Regions from separate parts of the Homo sapiens genome. Here region 1 is linked to region 2. Evidence: fine-mapped expression QTL. A gene starts in region 2. The other region holds a variant in brackets. All regions are shown on one strand. Distances are between the middles of the regions. Region 1 overlaps FRRS1L (ferric chelate reductase 1 like). Region 2 holds the start of FRRS1L (ferric chelate reductase 1 like).

Region 1 (8,282 bases), 31 kb after region 2:
GAAATAATAAAAAGTACTGAACAGGAAGGGCTTCTGGAGACTTCTCCAGAGATTGACACCAAGCATTTCATTAGGGCCCACTTTGTGACTATTCTGTTAGTCACAAATCTACCAAATTATCCCATAGTTTAACCCATTACTCCTTAAATATTTATGTGTATAGGAATTACCTGGCTATATTGTTAAAGTGCAGTTTTCTGTAGGTCTTCCCCTCTCTCCTCCCCTCTACTGGTCTCCCCTCCCCTTCCCTCCTCTCCCAGGGTCTTGCTCTGTCACCCAGGCTGGAGTGCAATGAAACAATCAGAGCTCACTGCAGCCTCCACCTCCCAGGTTTAAGTGACCCTCCCACCTCAGGCTCCCAAGTAGCTGGGACTACAGTCATGCGCCACTATGCCTGGCTAACTTTTTTGTATTTTTAGTAGAGACAGGGTTTCACCATATTGCCCAGGCTGGTCTTGAACTCCTGGGCTCAACCGATCCACCAGCTTTGGCCTCCCTAAGTGCTGGGATTACAGGTGTGAGCTACCATGCCTGGCAAGATTCTGCATTTCTAATAAGCTCCCTGGTCATGCTGGTTCATTGATGACCTCATTTTGGGTGGCAAGTCTCTGCAGCATTTGCCCAGCAAAGACCCAAGGATATCATGAGACCTTTTAGAGACTGCTAAAATCAAGTTACACTGAGTCTTGAGCATTCCTTCTGGTTGATTAGCCTAAGGGCCTGCTCAAGAATGGAAGTGAGTGTGGTTTGCAGTCCTTGCACTGAGAATTCATTCTGGCTCCTGGTAATTGCATCTTTCTTTACTGTGTGCTCATCAACTATTTGCTGCCTAATCTGATCTGGTTGTTTTTTTCCTTCAATTCGTTTCCACCAATCAGCCCAGAGATGACATAATCTACCTTTTATTTTGCCTGTTGCCAATTGGGAAGACACTTGACTGTCTCCAGATTGGTGACACCTTTTCCATTTGCTAATTTCCCAGATTACCAACAGTGGCTCTGCAGTTATAACTTCAATTACTTTCGGTACCCTGGGAAATAAATTATATCTCAGCCTGGAGAAATGGAGTAATCTAAAATAGTGGGATTTGAAGTCTAAAAATTTGAGTTTGAGTATTGGTTCTGCCCCTTGGTAGCTGTATAATATTTAGCCTATTATTTAATTTCTGAATTTCATTTCCTTATATCTAAAGTGGGGATAATAATACTTCCTATTCCATGGAAATATTGTAAGGATTAAGTGAAAACAAGTATTTGAAATTGCTTTACCAATTGGAAAAAGCTGTATTTTCAGAAGGTCATCTTTTTACATATATGGCAGACTAGCCTAAAGTTCAAAGCCTTCTCCAAATCTGGTCCTGCTTTACCTGATAAGCTCTCTCAAAACTTCTGTTCTTCTCACTAACTCTAAGCAAAACAGGCACATTCCTACCCCATATACTGGCTTCTGCTTTTCTTGTTTCCTGAATGCCCTTCTATTTTTTTTATGTTTTTATTTTTATTTTTTTTTAAACGGAGTCTCACTCTGTCGCCCAGGCTGGAGTGCAATGGCGCGATCTTGGCTCACTGCAACCTCAGCCTCCCAGGTTCAAGCAGTTCTCCTGCCTCAGCCTCCCGAGTAGCTGGGATTACAGATGCCCACCACCACACCCAGATAACTTTTGTATTTTTAGTAGAGACGCTGTGTCACCATGTTTGCCAGGCTGGTCTCAAACTCCTGATCTTGTGATCCGCCCACCTCAGCCTCCCAAAGTGCTGGGATTACAGGCATGAGCCACCACACCCGGCCTCCTGAATGCCCTTTTAATTGATTATATCCTACCTATTCTCCTAAGGTCCCTGTAAGGGGGAAAACTTTGAACTAAGGCTTGAAAGGGGTATGAGGTTGGATTTCACTCAAAGAAGGCATGAACTGTAGGCGCATAGTTAAGTTGAGCAGCCCTTGCAGGTGACCAGTGAGCTGAGGTTAGGTAGGAGAGGTGACTGGGATCTATTGAGAGAAAAGTCTGCTCTGTTACCCAGTCTGGAGTGCAGTGAAACAATCACAGCTCACTGCAGCCTCCACCTCCCAGGTTTAAGTGATCCTCCCACCTCAGCCTCCCAAGTGTCTGAAACTACAGGCATACAAACCTGAGAAGTTTGATTTTTGCTAACTGGGGCCAGCACGGACACTAAGCAGGGACCTGACATGTCAAGTTTGGCAGGGCTTCCCTAGCAGATAGGACCTTAAAAACCCTCACTCTGAGCCCTATTCCTAAGGAGACCTTTGCACTGAATGTATATGCCTTAGTCTCCCTAACCCAAGTTTCAAATGGATTATTCAGGAGGTCAGACACTTTTAATCAACTGAAGATTATTAAATATATTTTACACACAGTCTGTACTTCTTTCCACTTGTAACAAAATTAAAAGAAAGTTTCCCATCCAAAGACTAGTTTGGTACTTTAATCATCCCACTTTCTATACCATTCTACCCTAATCTGCCAGACACACAGACACACACAGACACACATCCAGTATACCACACTCCCTCTGGCATGGCCTGGGCAGGCTACTAAGTGTCCCACAGACAGTAGAGGAGGGCTTCCATCTGTAAGGGAGACGTTAGTAGTGTTGTCAGGAGTTGTTGATGATCCATATATATACAAGATAGATTTGAGGGAAAAAGTTAGTAGTCTCTGCTGTTTGAAATAAAAATATAGTTTGCCCATTTGGGTATTAATAAGACAAAACTCATAGAGCCGTTTTAGGAGGCAATCATACAATAATCACACAAAATTATGTAACTAGTAGTTTTAAAATTGAGATGGCAGGAAACAGATCAACAGCATTGTTCTGATGGGGGAGTGCAGATTAATAAGAACTAGTCTTTTTGGATAAATTTAACTAATTTCTATGTTCTTTATTATATGTACAATGATAGAGAATTCTGATAACTCAAATACCTGAATCCAGATCTTTGTAACCACTGCTTACGTATTCAACACTAAATAGACTTTTGATTTTTCCATTGTTTGCCTATACCATTATAAATCTGTTCTTTTTTCAATTGCCCCTGC[T/C]CTTCTCTTTTTTTCTTAAAGGCTCTATCACTCGACATGATATAGACTCACCGCCGGCTTCAGAGCGTGTTGTCAGTATTTACAAGTATGAAGACATTTTTATGCCATCAGCTGCCTATCAAACCTTCTCATCTCCATTTTGTTTGCTTCTGATTGTTGCTCTGACCTTCTACCTATTGATGGGAACCCCCTAACCACAGCTGCAGGGCCAACAGATTACATGGATTGGGAAGTCTTTAGTATAAATATATTTTTTAAAGAATATCCAGTATAATTTTAGCTTCAATTATTTAAGAAAAAAAACCTCATATAATTTCAGCTTTTTGGAAGAAAGAACAAGCTTCTTTTGTAGTCAAAGAAGATTGTTTAATAATGACCCTATACTTTTGGAACATACTTACACCTTTTCTAAGCACTTTCACATATGTTTTCTTATTTAACTTCACAACATCTCTGAGTTGGATTGATGAAAATTGTGATTGCCATCTTCCTGAATGGGATTTGAGACCCAAAAAGACTGCCTTTTTATGATCCACATACCATATAACTTTGGCTAGAAATGACAAATAGAAAGGCAGAGAAGGAACTAAGTATAGAAATCATGTCTCAAAACAGTCTTTACTATGAGTGCTATAGCACAGAGAGTTATTTTGAATATTACTAGGGAGAACTTTACTGAATGTCATAAGTTCACAGTCAGCCTTTTGGGCAGAAGAAATTTCAAATTTCCGTAAAGCAGAAGTGCTTTTGGATATTTACACAGCCAATGGGGAGATTGGAGGAAAATACAATGATATGAAAATAGTTCATATTTATTTGAAATTTTGGCCGAGCATGGTGGCTCACGCCTGTGATCCCAGCACTTTAGGAGGCCAAGACGGGCAGGTCACCTGAGGTCAGGAGTTCGAGACCAGCCTGGCCAATGTGGTGAAACCCCCGTCTCTATTAAAAAGTACAAAAATGAGCCAGGCGTGGTGGTGCACACCTATAATCCCAGCTATTCGGGAGGCTGAGGCAGGAGAATTGCTGGAACCCAGGAGGCGGAGGTTGCAGTGAGCCGAGATTGTGCCAGTGCACTCCAGCCTAGGTGACAGAGCCAGACTCTGTCTCAAAAATAACTAACTAAATAAATAATATTTATTTGAAATTTCTTCTCAGTTAGAGAGCAGCTATGGGAAAACATTTTTACTGCTATTTGCAAAGGTTGGAGACCAAACTGTGAGCATTCCTGAAGATGTAAAGTTGTGTTAATGATATTAAAAAAAAAAAAAAAGGGAATTCTTAGCAGTTAGAATTTGAACTTTTCTACCACTGAATTTTATAAAACTAAGGTATTCATCTGTGGTTACAGTGAATTCTCTTGTCAGAGCCAGCATACCTTAAGTGTGATTAAAAATGTATTTTTTTTTTTTTTTGCGATGAATTTTCCCTCTTGTCGCCCAGGCTGGAGTACAATGGTGTGATCTCAGCTTCACTGCAACCTCCGCCTCCCAGGTTCAAGTGATTCTCCTGCCTCAGCCTCCTGAGTAGATGGGATTACAGGCATGTGCCACTATGCCTGGCTAATTTTTTTGTATTTTTAGTAGAGATGGAGTTTCACCATTTTAGTCAGGCTGGTCTCGAACTCCTGACCTCAGGTGATCCACCTGCTTTGGCCTCCCAGAGTGCTAGGATTACAGGTGTGAGCCACCGTGCCTGGCCTAAAAATGTGTTATATCAGACAAAACATCTTAGTAAAAATTTAGGGCATTTTAATAATAAGCCAACAGTTTTTGAGACTGTAGAGATTTTGAGTAGAATTTTTTTTATGAGGTGGCTTTTTAAAAAATAATTGAAAATGGGAAAATGACCCATAAAGTGAATTCACCTAGAATATCCATTTAAATGTTCAGACTTGTGGCTGAGCGCGGTGGCTCACACCTGTAATCCCAGCACTTTGGGAGGCCAAGGCAGGCGGATCACCTGAGGTCAGGAGTTCGAGACCAGTCTGGCCAACATGGCAAAACCTTGTCTCCACTAAAAATACAAAAATTAGCCGGGTGTGGTGGCACATGCCTGTAATCCCAGCCACTTGGGAGGCTGAGGCACGAGAATCACTTGAACCTTGGAGGCAGAGCTTGCAGTGAGCCAAAATTGTGCCACTTGCACTCCAGCCTGGGTGACAGAGGGAGACCCTGTCTCAAAAAAATAAGTAAAATAAAATGTTCAGACTTATAAACTAGACAGGTAGTCAGCATAATTCATAGTAATGCCTTGACATTAGGCGCCCCAAAGGACTCCTTTGTTCTTTGTTCCAAATGTCTGTGCTAACTGCCCATTTTGAGGAGAGAAGTCTGCAGGTATAGTTAGTGCTGCTGAGACATTTCCACTCTGGCATTCTAGAGTTCTCTGGCTTGCCCTTGTTGCTTTAAAGCTGGTTCCAACTTCGTGGGCTTTATGATTGAGCAACACTGGTGATTGTGATTTCTAATACCACCCTCCAGATTCATGTCACAGGTGAAAGTCTGCCTGTGGGGAGAGCTTTCACATTCTCCTGGAGTTGAACCAAAATAAGGAAAACATCAACAAACACAGTTACCAAAAGCTTCCAAGGAGGGATGGAGGAGAAATTCTGTTCATTGCAGATGGGGAGAAATTAAATGACATCAAGTGCATAATGGAACTGGGTAGGATTCAAACTCAAGTCCCCTGGTTCAAGTCCTTGACTCCACTCTGGGCATGGCTAAGTCTGGCCTGTGTCTCATCTTCTCAGCTCTAGTGGCTGTTTAGTAGTGAAGATACTGATATGCAGGCAGCCATGTTGTAAATAAGAAGCAAATATTTTTATATTTCTCTCTCTTATGTGTATAATATTTGAGCTACAAACAGGTTAAAACAAAAGAGAGACTTCAGCTTAGTAGCAGGCAGGGAAGGAAGAAGTGAATGCAGCTTCCTTCCGCTTACATTTCTAATCAAGCTAATTATTTCACTAGTGATTTCTCATTTGATTACCGATTTTGCTTATTTATGCTTAGAACTTTCAATGACTTCTCAGTGCCATTAAGGTAAAATGCAAGCCATTTCTGTGACCTGCAATATCATCTTTTGCCACTCCTCCTCACTTGCTATGTCTTAGCAAGACTGAGAGGCTCTCAGTTCTTCAGACCTGCTCTATCTCACCTCTCATTTTGTTCATATTCTCCACCTCTTGTGCTTGATGAACTCCTATTCACCTATCAGGTCACAACTTAAATATTTTTTCCTCCAAATCTCTGGACTACATAGGTCCAGGCCCCCATCAAATGCTCCCATAGCACATTGGGCTTCCTCATCAACATGCTCGTTATACTTTTCTAGAATTGCTGGCTTGTCCTCCTTGTTATCTCCCTAATGCAGAGACCATTACTCATCATTGTAGCAGATATTTATCCATATCAGGTACTCAGCAAACATTTGTGGAATGAATCTATATGTGAAACTATACTTCTATGGCAAGTTTGTTTGGTTCAGAAGGCTTGCATTTCATGTATATTGGGAGACTGGCCAACATTTTTATATTCTTCCTCCTATGCTCAAACCATAAATAATTATGTTAGCAAACACTGAACTTTGTCTTTTGAAACATAAATAGAAACATCCTTAGTAACAGTACTAACAGTAATCATTTTTCAGAAATAAGAATTCACACCAGTGATACAGAATGGCCTTTGACCATTATCTCAGAGAACTAGCAGTCGATAGACATGCTGAAGTGATAATTCCAAAAACTTCAGTTTCATTCATCCCTACTTAAATATAAGAGAATCAACTTCTATTTTATGTCTGTATTCCCATTTTCTAATATACTACTTGTCACAGAGGAGATGCCCAACCAGTGTTTTTCGTAAAGTACCTGAATAGATTAATAATAATGCTAGTGAAATATATTTAGTGCTGTTCTAAGCACTTTACATGAATTAACTCATTTAATCCTCACCGCAACCATAGGAAGTAGATTCTATTATTTATCCAATTTTACAGATGAAAAAACTGAGGCTGGTCACTTGACATAAATTACCAGTGCTGGCCAGGACTTTAGAGACCATTTAATCCAATGCTCTTATTTTACAGAGGTGCAGCTGAAGCCTAAGGAGGTGATATGATTTCCTACACATTCATGCACCTTCGTGCACATCCATTAAAACTTTTATTAAATGGAACCCACTATCCATACTCCAATTAGCTAGGTGCCTTTTTTCCCCCATTTAGTAATTTACAATTAATTGGAGGACTTTTTATAGTTATATTTAGAGGAAAGGAGCATGTTTTACTCTATATCAACTTTCTTTTCTGCTTAAAAGCATTTTGATTCTTTATTTTACCAGTCATTTTAGTTCTTTTAATAGGTTTAATACACAGATCAAACAAGACTTAAATACATTTTTAACAATGTAACAATTTAAAAGAAATTGCCTAAAACCTAGGTCTTCTAACTTGGAGCCCAGTGCTTTTTTTATTGCTCCGCTGAGTCAAAAGGTGAATATATAAACATGATTTCAGATAGAATGCAGAAGCTGTATTTAATTAAGTTGGCTTTTGTCATTAAAGAAATCAGAAAGTTTGGACAACTCAGGAATGGATTTCCATCCTAGATGGTATTTACTACTATTTCTGGAATTAAGTTTACTGTCTATATTCAGGATTTTGTGCATAAGAGACGTGACCACTGAGGTTGTGTGTCATTCTTATCTCTACTCCAGGGGTCAGCAAACTTTCTCTGTTAAGGGTCAGATAGTAGTTTTTTGGCTTTTCAGTCTCTGTTTGGCTCTGCTATAAACAATACATAAATGAATGAGCATGGCTATGTTCCAATAAAACTTAATTGACACTGAACTTTGAATTTCATGTACTTTTCAAATGTCACAAATGTTTTCCTTTTGATTTTTTTCAGAAAGCCATTAAAAAAATCCAAAGACCATTCTTAGCTTGCAGGCTGCACAAAAACAGGAAGCAGGCGGGGTTTGCTTATGGACTGTGGCTTTCCCACCCTTGTTCTTAGATAGGGACACACCAATATATCATGATTAGTTGTAAAGGATACTGCCAGTAACATATTATTACTGGTTAGTTGTAAGAATATCAAAGTTAGTGAATAATTTGCTTTTAAAATAAATTATTGTTGATTTATTTTTATAAATAAATGGCACAGGGCATCTCATGCTCTTGCATTCTAATATATTTTCTGGAATTGATGCAAAAGTGGTGG
Region 2 (8,337 bases):
GTTACTGTATTTGAAACCCAGTACCTTTGGCAGCTCACCTCTAACCAGTAAAATAAGAGGATTCCATGGTTTCAGCAGTTGTCCTGGTTATTTGCCTATTTAAGTGAATGATGGGTGCTTGGCATTGTGACTGAGAAGATGAAATTGTGCTGGATGGATTCATAGGGATGAAAATGAATTGGCGCAATTGTTTCACATTTTTTATATATTTTAAACCCAAACAACAGCACTATATGGGCACACAACACACACCTTATGTCCGGGGGAAACAATCAGCTTACTGACATAGTCATTCCAGAGCTAGGGCTCCAAACTGTAGGATGCAGATTCCCAGTAGGCATGGAAGGTTATTGCAAGGGGTCTGGGAAACCTGCAACCCACAGCTTTATGGATTGTAAACTGCATAGGAAATTCTATGTTTGAAGAGTTTGAGATCCTAGGGCATTCAGAAGATCCCACTTGCATGCACCCAGAATTTTATATTCCCCAGGAATATAGCAGAGGAATATTCTGGTATCATATTTATCTTTCACCATCTCAAAAATTACAGTTTTAAAAACTCAAATAAAATTCATCACTATAACCATTTTAAAGCGTACAATTCAGTGGTTTCTAATGCATTCACAATGTTGTGCAGACAATACCACTATCTAATTCCAGAACATTTACATCATGCCAAAAGGAAACCCCATGTCTGTTAGCAGTCACTACTGATTCTGACCCCTGGCATCACCTGGCGACCACTAATCTACTTTCCGTCTATGGATTTGCTTATTCTGGAAATTTCATATGAACAAAATCATACAATATGTAGTCTTTTGTGACTGGCTTCTTTCACTTAACATAGTGTTTTCAAGGTTCATCCATGTTGTAGCATGTATCAGAACTGCACTCCTTTTTATGGCTTAATAATGTGTTATTATATGGATATACCATATTTGGCTTATCCAGTCATCAGTTGCGTCAGTTGATAGATATTTGGGTTGCTTCTGCTTTTTGGCTATTATGAATAATACTGCTAGGCTGGGCGCGGTGGTTCACACCTGTAATCCCAGCACTTTGGGAGGTCGAGGTGGGCAGATCACCTGAGGTCAGGAGTTCGAGGCCAGCCTGACCAACATGGAGAAACCCCATCTCTACTATACAAAATTACCTGGGCATGGTGGTGCATGCCTGTAATCCCAGCTACTAGGGAGGCTGAGGCAGGAGAATCACTTGAACCCGGGAGGCAGAGGTTGCGGTGAGCCAAGATTACACCGTTGCACTCCAGCCTGGGCAACAAGAGTGAAACTCCGTCTTAGAAAATAATAATAATAATATTGTTATGAACATTTGTGTACAAGTTTTTGTGTGAACATCTGTTTTAAATTCTCTTGGAATTGCTGGGTCAAATGGAAACTCCATGTTTAACTTTCTAAGGAACTGCCACAATCACAGCTTTTATTTCTTACAAAATCCAAAGTGAAAAATTATATATACTAGACAGTCAGAAGCCTGGGCAAATCGGTTACTCATCAGATACCAAGATGCAGCAATGATTTTGGGAGTTTTTAATCGCAAAAAAGGTTGTGTCAGAGAAATTGCTTTGAGGTGGAGAGAAAATAAAGGTACTGTCTTTCTTTTTAAAATGAAAATGAATTTAAATCTGGTTCATCTCTAAGTTTTTGTTTGAGTGGCCAGCTCTTGTACAGCCAGTGGTCTCAGAATGTTCAGGCAAAGTTCCTCCCCAGAAAATTTGCACAGTAGAGGAAACTACAATATTTCTTAGCTGTTCTGTAGAGTCACATTGGTGGGGAACAGAGGGTCTCTGCAAACCTAGGATGTAACTAAGAGGGGAGCATGTGCTTAAGGTTGGAATAGGTCTGCCTCCACTCTTTCCAGGACTTAAATCGTGTCAGAAAACATGAAGAGAAAGAAAATCCCCAAAGGCAATTTGAGTGGATGGGAGAGAATCTCATGAAATGGAAGGAGCCGAATAGGTTGCTGGGCCCTGAAAAGGCATAAGGCTTGAGTGACCCATAAAAGCTATAGGTTTTCCCAAACACTGCATGTTCTCACTCATAAGTGGGAGTTGAACAGTGAGAACACATGGACACAGGGAGGGGAACATCACACACCGAGGCATGTTGTGGGGGGTGAGGCAAGGGGAGGGAGAGCATTAGGACAAATACCTAACGCATGCAGGCTTAAAACCTAGATGACGGGTTGATGGGTACAGCAAACCACCATGGCACATGTATACCTATGTAACAAACCTGTACATTTTGCACATGTATCCCAGAACTTAAAGTAAATTAAAAAAAAAGTTGAACATGGAAAAAATAATTCATAAAAAAAGCTATGGGTTTTCTCCCTAGAAAAACCCATACATCACAACATTATTCCAGCACTTTCATAAGGTCCTCATATCACCCCTGAAGCCTATCTGTGGCCCCCTGTGAGTCTACATGAGTAGAGAGAGAATTGAAATCCACAGTTTACCTGCAAACTTCATTTTAGGCTGTAGTTGTAAACCGTCCCCAAAATACCCAAATACCCCCATAAAAACAATATAGAAAGCCCACGTGGTGGTGGTTTTTTTTGTTTTGTTTTGTTTTTTTGTTTGTTTTTTGTTTGTTTTTTGAGATGGAGTCTTGCTCTGTCGCCCAGGCTAGAGTGCAGTGGCCTGATCTCGACTCACTGCAAGCTCCGCCTCCCAGGTTCACGCCATTCTCCTGCCTTAGCTTCCCGAGTAGCTGGGACTTCAGGCGCCCGACACCATGCCCGGCTAATTTTTTGTATTTTCAGTAGAGACGGGATTTCACCGTGTTGGCCAGGATGGTGTCGATCTTCTGACCTTGTGATCCGCCCGCCTCGGCCTCCCAAAGTGCTGGAGTTACAGGCGTGAGCCACCGTGCCCGGCTGCCCACGTGTTTTTATATCAGATTAATTTACTCGGAGAAGAATGGCCTGGTTTTCATTTGCCTTCTATTTGGGCACCGTTATTGTTAATTTCAGTAACCAAAATGAAGGGAATAAAAAGGAAAGTAAGAGGTAAAAGCTTGTATTCCCAAACCAGAGAATCTACACTGAAATCAAAAGTCTAATGCTTTATTTTTTTGGCTAAACTTTGGTCCATTCTAAGTTGACCATACCTTCCCTGGTGAACAGAAAGAGAAGAAAAGAAAATAAAGAAATTTTAATTTTTAAGAAAGGTTTAAGGTTTTTGTTTTTGTTTTTGTTTTTTTTTTTTTTTTTGAAGGACTACACTTTAACAGATTTTCAATCTGTTGGATCAGCTTTTTTAGAATGTTATGCATTGCCACGCTATGCTTTTTGGGAAGAAGTCTCTTGAGTTTTTAAAGTAATCATAGTTCATCTTACCTTTTTCAAATAATCTGATCTATTTTTTGTGACAACTGCTATGTTGGGGGACCTAGTGAAGCCCAAGGTTTTCATGAATTACACCTCAATTCAGCCATCAGGATTAATATGTTTAAATTCCAGTTGGACAGCCCACTGTTAGCTGATACCTAATAGAAAATACCTGACTTCTAAGTCCCCCATCATGTCTCCCCTGTTTCAACAGCACTACCCTTATCTCTCAGCCAATCAGGCCATAAAGGGTTAAGATCACTAGTTTCCTTTTGAATATTAACATTTCACAATATTGTGTACATGTGTGCATGCCACTTACAGCACTGAACCCTATTGATCCTTACCTCTATGATCTTCCCTAATCTTCATTGCATCATGTCAATGACTAATCATGAGAGATCAGGCAGTCTGACTTCTAGGTCTGCATTTGGGACCTCTATGCTTTTCTGCCTCCATAATTATTTTGTTTATGCAATAAAATAAAATAATAAAATAGGAAAAGCAGGTTAAAATGCTGGCTCTGCAACACCAGCCTGAAAGGAATTGCGTCCGCCTCTCTGATGGAAAACAGCTTAGCAATTCGAATATATCACCCCAACAACCATCATCAAAAGAGAACCCTGGGACCTGCCATAAAGCAAATGCTTGGTGTGAATCAATGGATGGCTGAGTAAATAGCCAAAAGTGAACTGCAAGCAGCAGGAATGGATTTGAGAAAAATCAACAATTCAGCATGGCCCTCAGATACGGTGTGGGCCTTCCAAGGCCTGCGCGTGCTTGCTGCAGGGAAAGAGAGTAAACCAGAAGCCTAGTTTTGAAGGGGAACAGGTTACCTACTGGCACCAGCCTCTGTTGATTACACACCGCAAGAGCCTGGAGAGGAAGCAGGTGAATCCAGTTTTCTCTGTCTCTAAACACCTCAGTTTACCTAGCTCTATTGTGGGGGTCTTGCAATTTCAAGTTCCTTCTGTGATGATCCAAGAAATAATAGGTCTAGCAAGTGCTTTATGTAAACCAAAAAGTGCCGGCACAAGGTTGAGGAGGCAGCACTGACCAGGTGTGTCCAGGGTAAACTCTCTAGAGGAGCGTTTCATAAATTGAACGTGCATTGGGATCTCCTGGGAATTTTGATGAAATGAACATCCCGCTTCATGGGTCTGGAGTGGGGCCTCAGCGATGCTAACAAGCTTCCAGGTGATGCTGATGCTGCCGGTCCGCGGACCACACTCCGGAGTAGCAAGGGGCCAGAAGGGCCAAATCTGCCTGCGTGGAGGGAAGTCGGGGAGATGGGGAGAATGGAAAGAAGGACGGTAGAAGGGAAGCTGCTAGGAAGGAGAGATCGGTGCGGGGAGGAGGGGGGTTCCAAGAAGAAGGGGGAGGCTGCGGTGCTGGAGCGAGGATGCGCAGACCGAGGCAGGGAGGCGGGGGTGCGGGAGGCTCCGCGGCTGCGCGGGCGCGTGCTGGTGGCCTCGGCGGAGGCTCAGTCCCGGCCCGCGCCCGCGGCGCCCCCGCTGCGGCCCGAGCGGCCTGGCTGCGGGATCTGTGCGCACGGATGGCGCGGCCGCCCCGGCAGCACCCGGGGGTCTGGGCGTCGCTGCTCCTGCTGCTACTGACGGGGCCCGCCGCCTGCGCAGCCAGCCCCGCGGACGACGGTGCGGGCCCGGGGGGCCGGGGACCCCGGGGACGCGCGCGGGGGGACACGGGCGCCGACGAGGCGGTGCCGCGCCACGACTCCTCCTACGGCACCTTCGCGGGGGAGTTCTACGACCTGCGCTACCTGTCGGAGGAGGGTGAGGCTGCGGGAGGGCGAGGGGTTGCGGGAGGGGAGACCGGGGGTGGGGGACCGAGGATCGGGGGAACGAGGAGAGGGGGCGAGGGAGGGGGAGGGGGTCGGAAAAGATGTCCGTGGAGGCAGCTCTTGCAGAGGCGAGGCCAGGATGGGGAGCGCAGTGCCCAGGCCTCCGCCGGCCTGGAGGAAAGGCCCAAAGAGCTGTCAATGCCTGCCGCCCGCTTTACAGATGGGGAGAGTGAGGCTGGGAGAGGGAGGGGTCATCCAAGTTCTGCAAGGCTGTGGATAGGGGTGGGTGCTGAGTCTAAGCTCCCCCAGTTCTTAGATCTGGCTTCCACCTTTGCCGCCTGGGGTTGGGTTATAGGGGAGGAGGCCGCCATCTGGCCAGGGCAGCTAGGGGGAAGCAGAAAAACCCCAACCTAAAGAGAGAGGTTGCCTTATTTCCTCCCTGTCTGTATTGACTTAAATTTGCAGTGACCAGCGCCCACCTCGTAGCATTCTGTTCCTGCTCACTGACCCGTCAGAGCTGGGTCACATCAGCCTCCCCACTCCCATCCCTCCTCTTTTATGACGCCACATATGTTATGGTCCCCTAGTGCGAGCCACCATTGTTGTGGCCTGCTGGGCCCGCAGACTGGGAGTTTGTCAGCCAAGGGCCTCCCTGTAGAGCTGCTTCAACGAGCACAAAAGCCAAGCGGATGGTGGTCAGAAGGAATGGAAACTGGCCTCTTTAAGCAACTTTGGGAAGTAGTGACTTTCCTTTTCTTCTGCTAAGAGGGATATCCAACCATCAAGCTGGGGTTTGAAGTGTTGAGTCCCAGGAGCTCATATCTGTTAGTGGATGTGTCTGTTGTTAGGATTAAGTTCAGCTGTATACAACAAGCAAACATTAATAGCTTCAACAAGATAGAAGTTTCTCTCTTACAGAAAGAAAACTAGAAATAGGTAATCCAGAACTGGTCTGGAGGCTCCTTGGTCACCAGTGTCTCTGGATCCTGCCCTTCTGTTTCTTCACAATTCTTAGCATGTAACTTCATGGTTCAAAATAACTGCTTGAGCTACAGCCATTATGTTCACATTCTAGACAGTGGGAAAAATGAAGCAGGAAGAAGGTCACTGACTACTTTATAAAGGGATTACTCGGAAGTTTCATATAACAATTTTTATACTTCTTTGGCCACAACTTAATCATATGGTTGCACATAGGTACAAAGGAGGATGTAAAATAGAGCCTATTAGCTGAGACATAATATGCCCAGTTCAAAAATCAGAATTATTGTATTAAAGAAGATGGAGAGAATGGATTTGGGGAAATGTATTAAGTAGAGGCTTAACTGCTGAATTAGAGATTTTAACATATAGTGGTTTAAATAAGCTAGTTTATTTTTCTCTCTGATAAGAGTCTGGTTGGTCTGGGGCTGGTGGGATGACTCTGTTCCGCAAGGTCATTCAGGGACCCGGGTTCTTTCCATCTTGTTGCTCTGCCATCCCCCTGAGGCTTTGTCCTCATCAGTACAGTAGAAGCCAGGTTGCATGTCCTTGTTCAAGATTGAGGGAAAGAAAAAGAGAAGTTCAGGGCAAGTAGTTACCTTTTAGGCTGGCTGCCCACATTACTGCTGTTCACATTCCTTTGGCAAAAACATAGTTACAATGACCTAGCTTCAAGGGAGACTAAGAAATGTAGTCTTCTAGCTGGAGAGCCATGTGGCGGAATCTGTCACTCTGGAAAAGAATAAATATTCCGAAGCCCGTCTGTTTCTGAAAGCATCTAATGTATCTTTACACTGTACACAGCCTAGTGCTGCCAGGTGACTTAAATGTGGTATGTGAGAACTTGTATTCTGATTGGGCTCATGCATCTAACAAATGAAGGATAAGCTCAGATTCTGTACGTCCTTTGAGTCTCTCTGCAGAGAGAATGATATGTTCATTGTATAGTCCAGAAAGTTTTATGAATGTGGACATCAGGTGGGCCACAGCCATCAAGGACAGCTTTTATAGAGTCAAGCCATGAAGTAGGAAAGACTTCAGTGACACAGAAGAGGGAAGGCATTTAGGTGAGGTGATCACATAGCAGGCAGCAGGGCTTTGTACCGATCCCTAGTGTGTCTGCTTCGCGCCCCCACCATTCTGCACATAAAACTGGTTTAACCCTCCTGAAGTCTGCCTCTAACCTGTTGGCATTGCACTCAAAAGTCTGTGATGGGGCCGGGCGTGGTGCTTCACGACTGTAATCCCAGCACTTTGGGAGGCTGAGGTGGGTGGATCAGGAGGTCAGGAGTTCGAGACTAGCCTGGCCAACATGGTGAAACCCCGTCTCTACTAAAAATACAAAATTAGCCGGGCGTGGTGGTGCACGCCTGTAATCCCAGCTACTCAGGAGGCTGAGGCAGGAGAATTGCTTGAACCCAGGAGGTGGGGAGGTTGCAGTGAGCTGAGATTGCATCATTGCACTCCATCCTGGACAACAGAGTGAGACTCGGTCTCAAAAAAAAAAAAAAAAAATCAACCTGCTCCCTGAATGAATATTCAACTGCTTTATCTGAAATGTCCTCCCTGGCTCAACTTCCTTTTACAACCATATCTCCCCTTCCCTCACCCTGAGCTTTTACTCTCCATTCTTCTCCTACCCTCTTCTCTCTGACAGTTTCATTTCCTCTTTGCATACAGATTCTACCACCATCCGGTGGGTGCTAGTTGAGATGTAAGTGGCGTGGGGCTATCAGAGGCAGTGCCTCTGCTAGATTACCCTGGGCCTAGGCTTCATCCCTGTGGGTCCTGAATAGAGACTTTCCCAAGACGCTTAGAAATAAACAGTGACATTGCCTTAAAAGCGGGGGCTGAGGAGGGGTTGCCAGAGAGAGGGAAGAAGAACCAGGAGAGAGGGGTGTCCCAGAAGGCAAAGGAAAAGAGCCTGTTTCCTACCAAGGTGTGGCCTGATAGCATGAAGGCTCAAAATTATCGATGGTTTCAGGAGATGAGAGGTTATGGGTGGAACTCTCCTAGGACAGATTCAGTGGAGAAGGAAGGAGGGAACCTGACTGACCTTGGAGGACGTGGCAAGTGAAGAAGTGCCGGTAATGCCTTTGACTTATTCTATCAATACACTTGAGGTTGTCCATTTCTAGTGACTAGGCTACTTGTTCCCTCTGTGCAGGGTACCCCCTTCTTATGTCTCAAATAGTCATGAA

What was found.
Region 1: its variant is fine-mapped to the expression of FRRS1L in cerebellar hemisphere (GTEx, PIP 0.90).

The regions. Positions count from the first base shown.
Region 1 is chr9:109,132,425-109,140,706 of GRCh38, reverse strand. It overlaps FRRS1L (ferric chelate reductase 1 like), which reads left to right. Exons shown (of 5, transcript NM_014334.4): 5 at 3,080-8,282. The coding sequence ends at 3,252. Among named protein-coding and RNA genes, the nearest start is that of TMEM245, 17 kb to the right of the region's middle. The variant T/C (reference allele first, on the strand shown) is at 3,059.
Region 2 is chr9:109,163,711-109,172,047 of GRCh38, reverse strand. It overlaps FRRS1L (ferric chelate reductase 1 like), which reads left to right and starts at 4,799. Exons shown (of 5, transcript NM_014334.4): 1 at 4,799-5,147. The coding sequence starts at 4,910. It overlaps EPB41L4B (erythrocyte membrane protein band 4.1 like 4B), which reads left to right. Exons shown (of 26, transcript NM_019114.5): 26 at 1-74.